Homo sapiens: one gene and its partner. The protein of the gene in region 2 purifies or fractionates together with the protein of the main gene of each other region. This does not show direct contact. Each region holds a gene or a part of one and is shown on either strand. Other genes may lie near its edges.

What was found. Proteins that work in one complex are often made in the same cells at the same time.
Region 1: the proteins of CCDC89 (region 2) and CEP44 purify together in Homo sapiens (co-immunoprecipitation; 3 studies listed by BioGRID and IntAct, with this or other methods). This does not show direct contact.

Annotation. Positions count from the first base shown.
Region 1 is NC_000004.12:174,307,911-174,311,481, reverse strand, and holds part of CEP44 (centrosomal protein of 44 kDa), read right to left. Parts: intron 2,794-3,571; coding exon 2,623-2,793; intron 1,633-2,622; coding exon 1,426-1,632; intron 700-1,425; coding exon 624-699; intron 1-623. UniProt on the Homo sapiens protein: Centriole-enriched microtubule-binding protein involved in centriole biogenesis. In collaboration with CEP295 and POC1B, is required for the centriole-to-centrosome conversion by ensuring the formation of bona fide centriole wall.
Region 2 is NC_000011.10:85,683,983-85,687,902, forward strand, and holds the start of CCDC89 (coiled-coil domain-containing protein 89), read right to left. Parts: upstream 2,214-3,920; 5' UTR 2,149-2,213; coding exon 1,024-2,148; 3' UTR 1-1,023.

The sequences.
Region 1 (3,571 bases), on a different chromosome or scaffold from region 2:
TAGCTATGATTTAATCATAGATATGGCACAAAATTTAGATCTTTTAAAAATACATAACAATCAAAACAAAGCTGTCACTGAAAAACAGAAATCTTACCCTTGCTGCTCAGTCACACTAAGCAAAATATCAGTAGCCTAGTAAAGTGACCAGGAAAAGACCTATCCTAATATCAGATCTTTCCCATTTTATCATTATCAGTGAACTATTCACATGGAAGAAGTTTGCAATACTTTATAGATACTGACAAATGTGTTTTCTTCTCTTACATATTATTATTTACATATGAGAAAGCTACTACCTACCTAAGCTTAAATTTAAAAACTTGGAGGCCAACATTAATATCCTAGAGCACTTGATTATTCTCGAATGATTAAAACAGTAAAATATCTCTAAAAATTTTCAATTTTGTACACTGAAATTTATTCACCCACTATGTTATGTGAAATAAGTAGGCTGGTTAGTTAAGCAATTCTTGGCTTTAGTAGTCTGTAGGTTCATTATGTTCTTTGTTCTAGGAGCTTTGCAATTTCTAAACAATAAAGCTTAAGAATATTAAAATTACTATAACAATCATTTTTCTGAAAACTCATCATACCAATTCTCATAGTATTTACAAACTTACGAGGATTCAGAAGGTCCATGTCACTACAAGAAGCGTAGTCTTCACTAACTTCATTAAACTCTATAAATTCATCATTCTGGAATAACACAGTTAAATATTTAGAATGAAATAAAAAGAAAAACCCTCTCATTTTATATTCTTAATGCTGAGCATAAAATATAAAGGTAGCATGATAAATGTTTAAATATTTTTAATTTTTTATTAAAGCAATACATATACTGCATATTCCTACATATAAGAAATGTTTTAAATATGGAAGCAGATAGCAAGCTACTTGACTTCACCTTCTAGGAAGGAAAGACAGACCAGAAATTGAAATCCTGAGTAAAAAAAAACAAATTTCTCAGATTTGATAAGGCAATGGTAAATCTGGTAACTATTCTATGAAATTCACAATATGATTGAAGTAAATGAGTGAAAAAAAGATGGGAAGAGTTACCTATATCTTCTGTATCTTTTCTACCCTATGAAAATAGGTTATTTGTACTATTAAAAGATATAAAATAATTTTAAGCTTTTCATATCTATCATATTCTTACCTCATTTTAAATTCTTCAAGCATTATTAACATCTGTAAAAGCTCAACTGACAAGTTTTTCAGATTATCTTATTCAATGAAGAGAGAAACAACAGCCACAACAACATACAGGCTATATTTAAACAGGACTTCATTCTAACTAGACATTTTCTCATTATTCAAATATTCTCATATTTAGCATTTCCAAAAAAATACACATATAACAATCAAAAAAAAACTTTGTTATATCTGAGATATTTTATAAATGTTAAAGGAGGAAAATACCTTTTTAGACAAAAGCATTTCTGTTTCAAGAAGAGTGACACGACTAAGAAGATTAGTCCAGGTGTTTTCATCTACCATCACTTTTCCTTTCATTTTTTGTTCCAAACAGTCTAACCTTTTCTCTATCGAAGTCAGTTTCTTAAGATTTTCTTGGCATTCAGCAAGCATAGTTTGTAGTGCAGTAATCTCAGGATTAACATTTACATCCTAAAAAGGTTAGAGAGATTAAAAATAAAATTAAACAAACTGAAATTTCTTTAAAATTAATGTATTCTCACTTCCACAGCGTTATCTCAACAGTTAGGAGAGACCGTCCTGCTTGAGAGTTAAGAGAGCTATCTCTGGATGGAGACTACTTGGCCACTTAAACCAGTTCTGAGATTTATGATCTTGATGCCTCCATTTCCTCATTAAAAAAAAAGAGATAAGAGCAGTATCTATTTCATATGATTCTTCTGATAATGAGTTAATTTGCATGATTCTCTTAATACCAGCTAGTAAAATAAAACTATTATTAACTAGCTTCTTGAAACAACGCTTAGCACAAAGCTAAGAGGAAATGACCAAAAACAACACTTAGTGCATTGAGATTGTTCGGTTTGCCATATAACAGGAAGTAGGTCCAATGGCCATCTGGTAGTTTTTGTAAGTGCCAACTGTATATTGATATACTGAGATATATAGAAATCACAAGACATAGAAACACAGAAAAAGAAGTCTTAGCAGAAACAGTAGAGATCAGACATATTGGGGTCTGTGGCAATTAAGAGTAATAGAAATGGTTTTTTAAGAGAGACAGAAAATAACAGCAGGGACCCAGAAAGGAAAATGAATAGGCAATAAAGTGCCAATCTTTTCCATTCACCAATAAAGAAAATAGGTGGTAGAGAACCTCCACTATGCAAAGTAGCATATCGCTATGTCTCACTAAATTGTAGATTCCTTAAAGCCAAGTACCATATCTTATTCTACTTTGCATCACCCCAACACTTAGCCCAGCACCCTACACATATGCAGCAAATATTTGTTGAATTATTTTAGTAAGACTTATTGACACTTCAGTAATTGTAACATAGATAAAATGTCATGATTAATAATTCAAAAGGCTAGAAATATTCCAAAGTTTAGAGGCTGAAATAATTACACATATTTAAGTAAAAAATACTGGCATCTATTTAAAAAGTCCAAAGTTGTTACCTGTTGCTCAGCCTTGATTTCAGGAACCTTTACTTCAGGCATCTTTATTTCAGTAGCATTTAAGTCAGACACATCAACTGCTTCATTAACATCTGTTATTGGACTTAATGTATCCTCAGAAATGTCAACATTATCTTCATTATACAAGTGACGAATCACCACAGCTTTCTTCTGCATAGAGAAAAATATGTAAGAAACACTTCAATGTTTTCCTCCCACAATTATTTATTTTTTAACTTTTAAGTTCAGGGGTCCATGTGCAGGTTTGTTACACAAGTAAATGTGTGCCATGGGGGTTTGTTGTGCAGATTATTTCATCACCCAGGTATTAAGCCTAGTACCCATTGGTTATTTTTCCTGAACCTCCTCCTACCCTCCACCCTCTGAAAGGCTCCAATGTGTTTTGTTTCCCTCTATGTGTCCATGTGATCTCATCATTTAGCTCCCACTTACAAGTGAGAACAAGTGGTATTTGGTTTTCTGTTTCTGCATTAATATGCTAAGGATAAGGGCCTCCAGCTCCATCCATGTCTCTGCAAAGGACATGATCCCATTATTTTTTACGGCTACAGAGTATTCCATAGTGTGTATGTACCACATCTTCTTTATCTGCTCTATCATTGATGGGCATTTAGGTTGATTCCATGTCTTTGCTATTGTATTTAGCTTGATTCCATGTCTTTGCTATTGTGAATAGTGCTGCAATGAACATATGCATGCATCTTTACAACAGAACAATTTATATTCCCTTAAGTATATACCAAGTAACGGGACTGCTGGGTCAAATGGTCTTTAGGTCTTTGAGGAATTGCCACACTGTCTTCCACGGTGGTTGAACTAACTTACACTCCCACCAACAGTGTATAAATGTTCCTTTTCTTCCACAAACTCACGAGCATCTGTTATTTTTAGACTTTTTAATAATAGTCATTCTGAGAAGCGTGACATG
Region 2 (3,920 bases):
AATGTTTATATATCAATACCTAATTACAGGAAGATAAGAAAATATAACTACCTTTGAGAACTTTTTTAAGAACTTTACATATATATATATCATGTTTTTATAACTATTCTTACAAAATGTAGGTATTACTACAAAAATGCTGCAAGCATACATACACACGTTCAGCTTAGATTTTTTTAAAAAAGGAAAATCTTAATTACAAAAAATATGCTAATAGAAACAAAACAATTTCTGAGTTACTCTATAGATCACGTCTGCTATGATTTGTTACCCCAAATTGTCTAATTGTCTATTAGCATATCGTGCAATATTAAATTAAGCTACTGATATTTGCATTATTGCACATCTAAATCCTCTTTTTAAAGAGAAAACCAAAAAATGGAATATTATCTAAGCTTGCAGAAAAAATAAAAGTTGTTTTGTATAACTTATTTGAATCATATTGCTCATACAGAATAAAATTGACCTTCTTTGTTAAAGAACTTGATCTCAATCATTTTCCAAGCTAGCGCAAAATAAAATAAAGTCAGACACTTTTTTTTTTCTGCAAAGCATTCATGCTATTATGCTGATACATGTTTGCTTACAATCTCAACTATGGGAGACTATAAGCCTAACTATCTACAGTGGGTAATTGTGCTAATTATTTTTCACAATGGCACATCTCACTGCACTTAGATTGACTTAAATCATAGAAGCTGCTAATTTAAAATCCTAACATAAATGAAGATATCTGAGGTTGAGAATTAATAACTTATGGGTAGGAGAAGATACTACTAGTAAATTTAAGATTTCTAAGGCACAGAAGGAAATCTGGCAAATCTTGTGTATTCTAGGTGTAGAAATGAAAATTAATAATGGCTTTACAATAATAACAACAATATCATAGTAAAGTAGCTTTTCTTTGAGTTGCCTTTTGTGCTTGAAAGTATAATAAATGGGATATCATCTTTACTCTTGCCATAATGCTAAGACGCAAATATTTGAATTCTGAATTGCAGGCCAGAGGAAGCAGAAACTTCCCTATGGAGAGAGATGGCGGAGTTTGCCATTGAGTTCTCTCTCCTTGCTTAAAAGATCCAAGCTGTGCTTTTTGAAGGCTTCAGACTGCAGCCTGAGTTCATCGTAGGCCTTCTGGATCCCATCTACTTTGCGCTGAAGCTCCCTGACTCTCAAGTTGCTGTCCACAGCCACTGCCTCTTGCTCAAACCGCTCCAGCGCATGCTTCCTGTCTTCATTTGCTATCTCCAACTTTTCCTCAAGCTGGCAGATCTCTGCCTGTTTGTTCTGAAGCACTTTGCCCCTTTCAATGGACAGCTGCAGCAACTCCTCTTTCTCTCTAGTGACGGTCTGCAGCCTGGCCTGCAGCTCCTGGCTCAGGCTGCTGTGTGTCTCCTCTGCCTTAGCTATCTGCTCCACAGCCTGCTGGTGCTGCTGCTTGAGGGTCTGCAGCTGGCTGCGCAGCTGTTCTGTCTCCTTGGTGTGGGTGCAGGCCTGCTGGCTCTGTAGCTCCAGCAGCTCCTTCTCGCGCGCCTGTGCCTGGCAGGCATCCTGAGCACACCTCTCCTTCAGCGTTTCTAGCTCCCCAGTGAGGGCCTCACACCGGACTGTGAGCTGTAATACTTTCGCCTCCTCATCCTTCAGAGCCTGGCTGAAGAGGCTGCTATTCTCCAGCCTCAGCTTCTCATTCTCCTCCCTCAGCTTGATGTTCTCACTCTTGTATTCATCCTTGAAGCGGAGCATCAACTCGTGGTTGGCTGCTAGGGTCATAAAGCGTTCCTCTAGTTTCCGACTGTACTCACCCTGGGCCTTGAGCTTCTCAGCCTCCTGCATCATCTTCTCCTCCAGCTCTGCATTGAGCAGCTCTAGGATCTGGCAGCGCTCCAGGGCCTCATCTGACCTCCGCTTCAGGATGCAGATGAGCTGGGACTGCTCTTCAATGCGGGAGCGAAGCATAGCCTTCTCGCTCCTCTCCTCCTCTGACAGTCCCCGGAGGTTTGCCAAGGCTTCCCTCAGACCGTCCAGTTCCTTAAACTCCGTCTCCTCTTCCTGGTTGTTCAGTTTTTCATTTTGCTTCTCTAAGCGTTCTTCAGGGGGCGGGGTGTCCATCCTGGGAGCCTGCTGTTTCTGGAGCATAGGCGCTCTCATCCACTAAGGGCTGACTACAGTCTTTTCCCCTCAGATTTCAAACGCTGCAGGGTGTTGCTAGGGACTCTTGGCACTCCCCAGCAGTTGGTTTTTCCAGTAAGGAGCCCTGTAATTGGTGGACAGGTCTTCAGAATGCTATGAAGTAACAACAGGGGAATCTGGGGGAGTCCAGAGCCAATCTGGTCGGGTTACTTTTGCCTTTCTAACCAATCACAGCTCTCAGTTGTCAACTGTCTCAGTGTCTGGCCTGTACAGCACAGAGATGCCAACCCCACTCAATCTCCAGCCAGCATCAGGGGAGGAAGCCTGACTCCACCTAATTTCTGGTAGTAGTAAACAAATGAAGCAGGCAATGATATATTTATCCTCCCTCTCCCCTCTTCAGTTATCGTTTGAATAAATTACTGTTTGTGGAAACATGGTTGGCTCCTCAAAAAATTTCAGTCTATGAATACAAAGTAGTAGTGGTATTCTGAGAGCCAGGACCCTAAAAGCCTGCATATCTGCACCCGTGATGTTTGGCACAGCTCCCTTTTGGTATTTAAGTATTAAAATAGAAAACACCAGTGAAATTTCTTTTGTTGTTCTTAGCATTGTCCCCACCTGGGCATAAATACTCTTTATTAGATATTTAACACCCCCTGTTTTTACCCATTAGCAAAATAAGGTTACAGAAAGAAGCTTAGTGAACCACACAGATAAACATTAAAACAGAAAAAATAAGATTCAAATGAAGCTTGCCATTATATGCCAAAGTCAACTCCTGATAGATTAGTTAAATGTAAACAGAAACTAGAAGAAAATGAAGGTAAACATCAAATCTCTGGGGCTAGGAAGGATTTTTTTTTTATCTTAAACATTATGTAAGATCAGAAAGGGAAAGCTTACTCAAAAAGTTATGTATAATTTTTTAAATTATGTGACTTCTGAGGTCTCTCCAGCCCCTTCTTCCACTGGATTTTCTTGACATTTTACTCCTCAAACCCAAATATTGAAGCCAAACCCAAATCCACTAACCAGCTCTCTCGCCCTATCTTTAGGTGTTCCTCTACTTGGAATGCCTTTCCTACTTTGTCCCTTGTCACTCTAGTAAAGCTTTTTATTCTTAGTTAAGAATCGTCTCTGAAGCCTATTCCTGGCCCCTACATGTCCAATTGGTCACTCACATCTTTTAGTGCATCCGCTATAGCTATTTGTACTTCTGGTGGAGGATGTGAAAATTTTATTGCAGTCACTGTTTATCTGCCAGCTTCCCTCTGTTAGACTGTAAGATCCTTAAGGGCAGGGACTGTGTCTATTTCATCCTTGATGATTAGACTAGTGCCTGGCACATGGGGGAGATTCAGATAAATGTGTATTAAGTGGATGTTGAAGGTAAAAATCAAATTGAGAAAAATATCCCTAATATGACAGACACTACTTTTTTTTTTTTTTTTTTTTTTTTTTTGAGACAGAGTCTCCCTCCATCGCCCAGGCTGGAGTGCAGTGGTACGATCTCGATTCACTGCAACCTCCGCCTCCCGGGCTCAAGCAATTCTCCTGCCTCAGTCTCCTGAGTAGCTGGGATTACAATTACATACAACCACACCTGGCTAATTTTTGTATTTTTAGTAGAGACGGAGTTTAACCATGTTGGTCAAGCTGGTCTTGAACTCCTGACCTTAAATGATCCACCCGCCTCAGCCTCCCAAAGTGCTGAGATTACAGGCATGAGCCATCGCACCCAGCCCAGACACTACCTTTTTTAAATAAATATTTTATACATATCAACG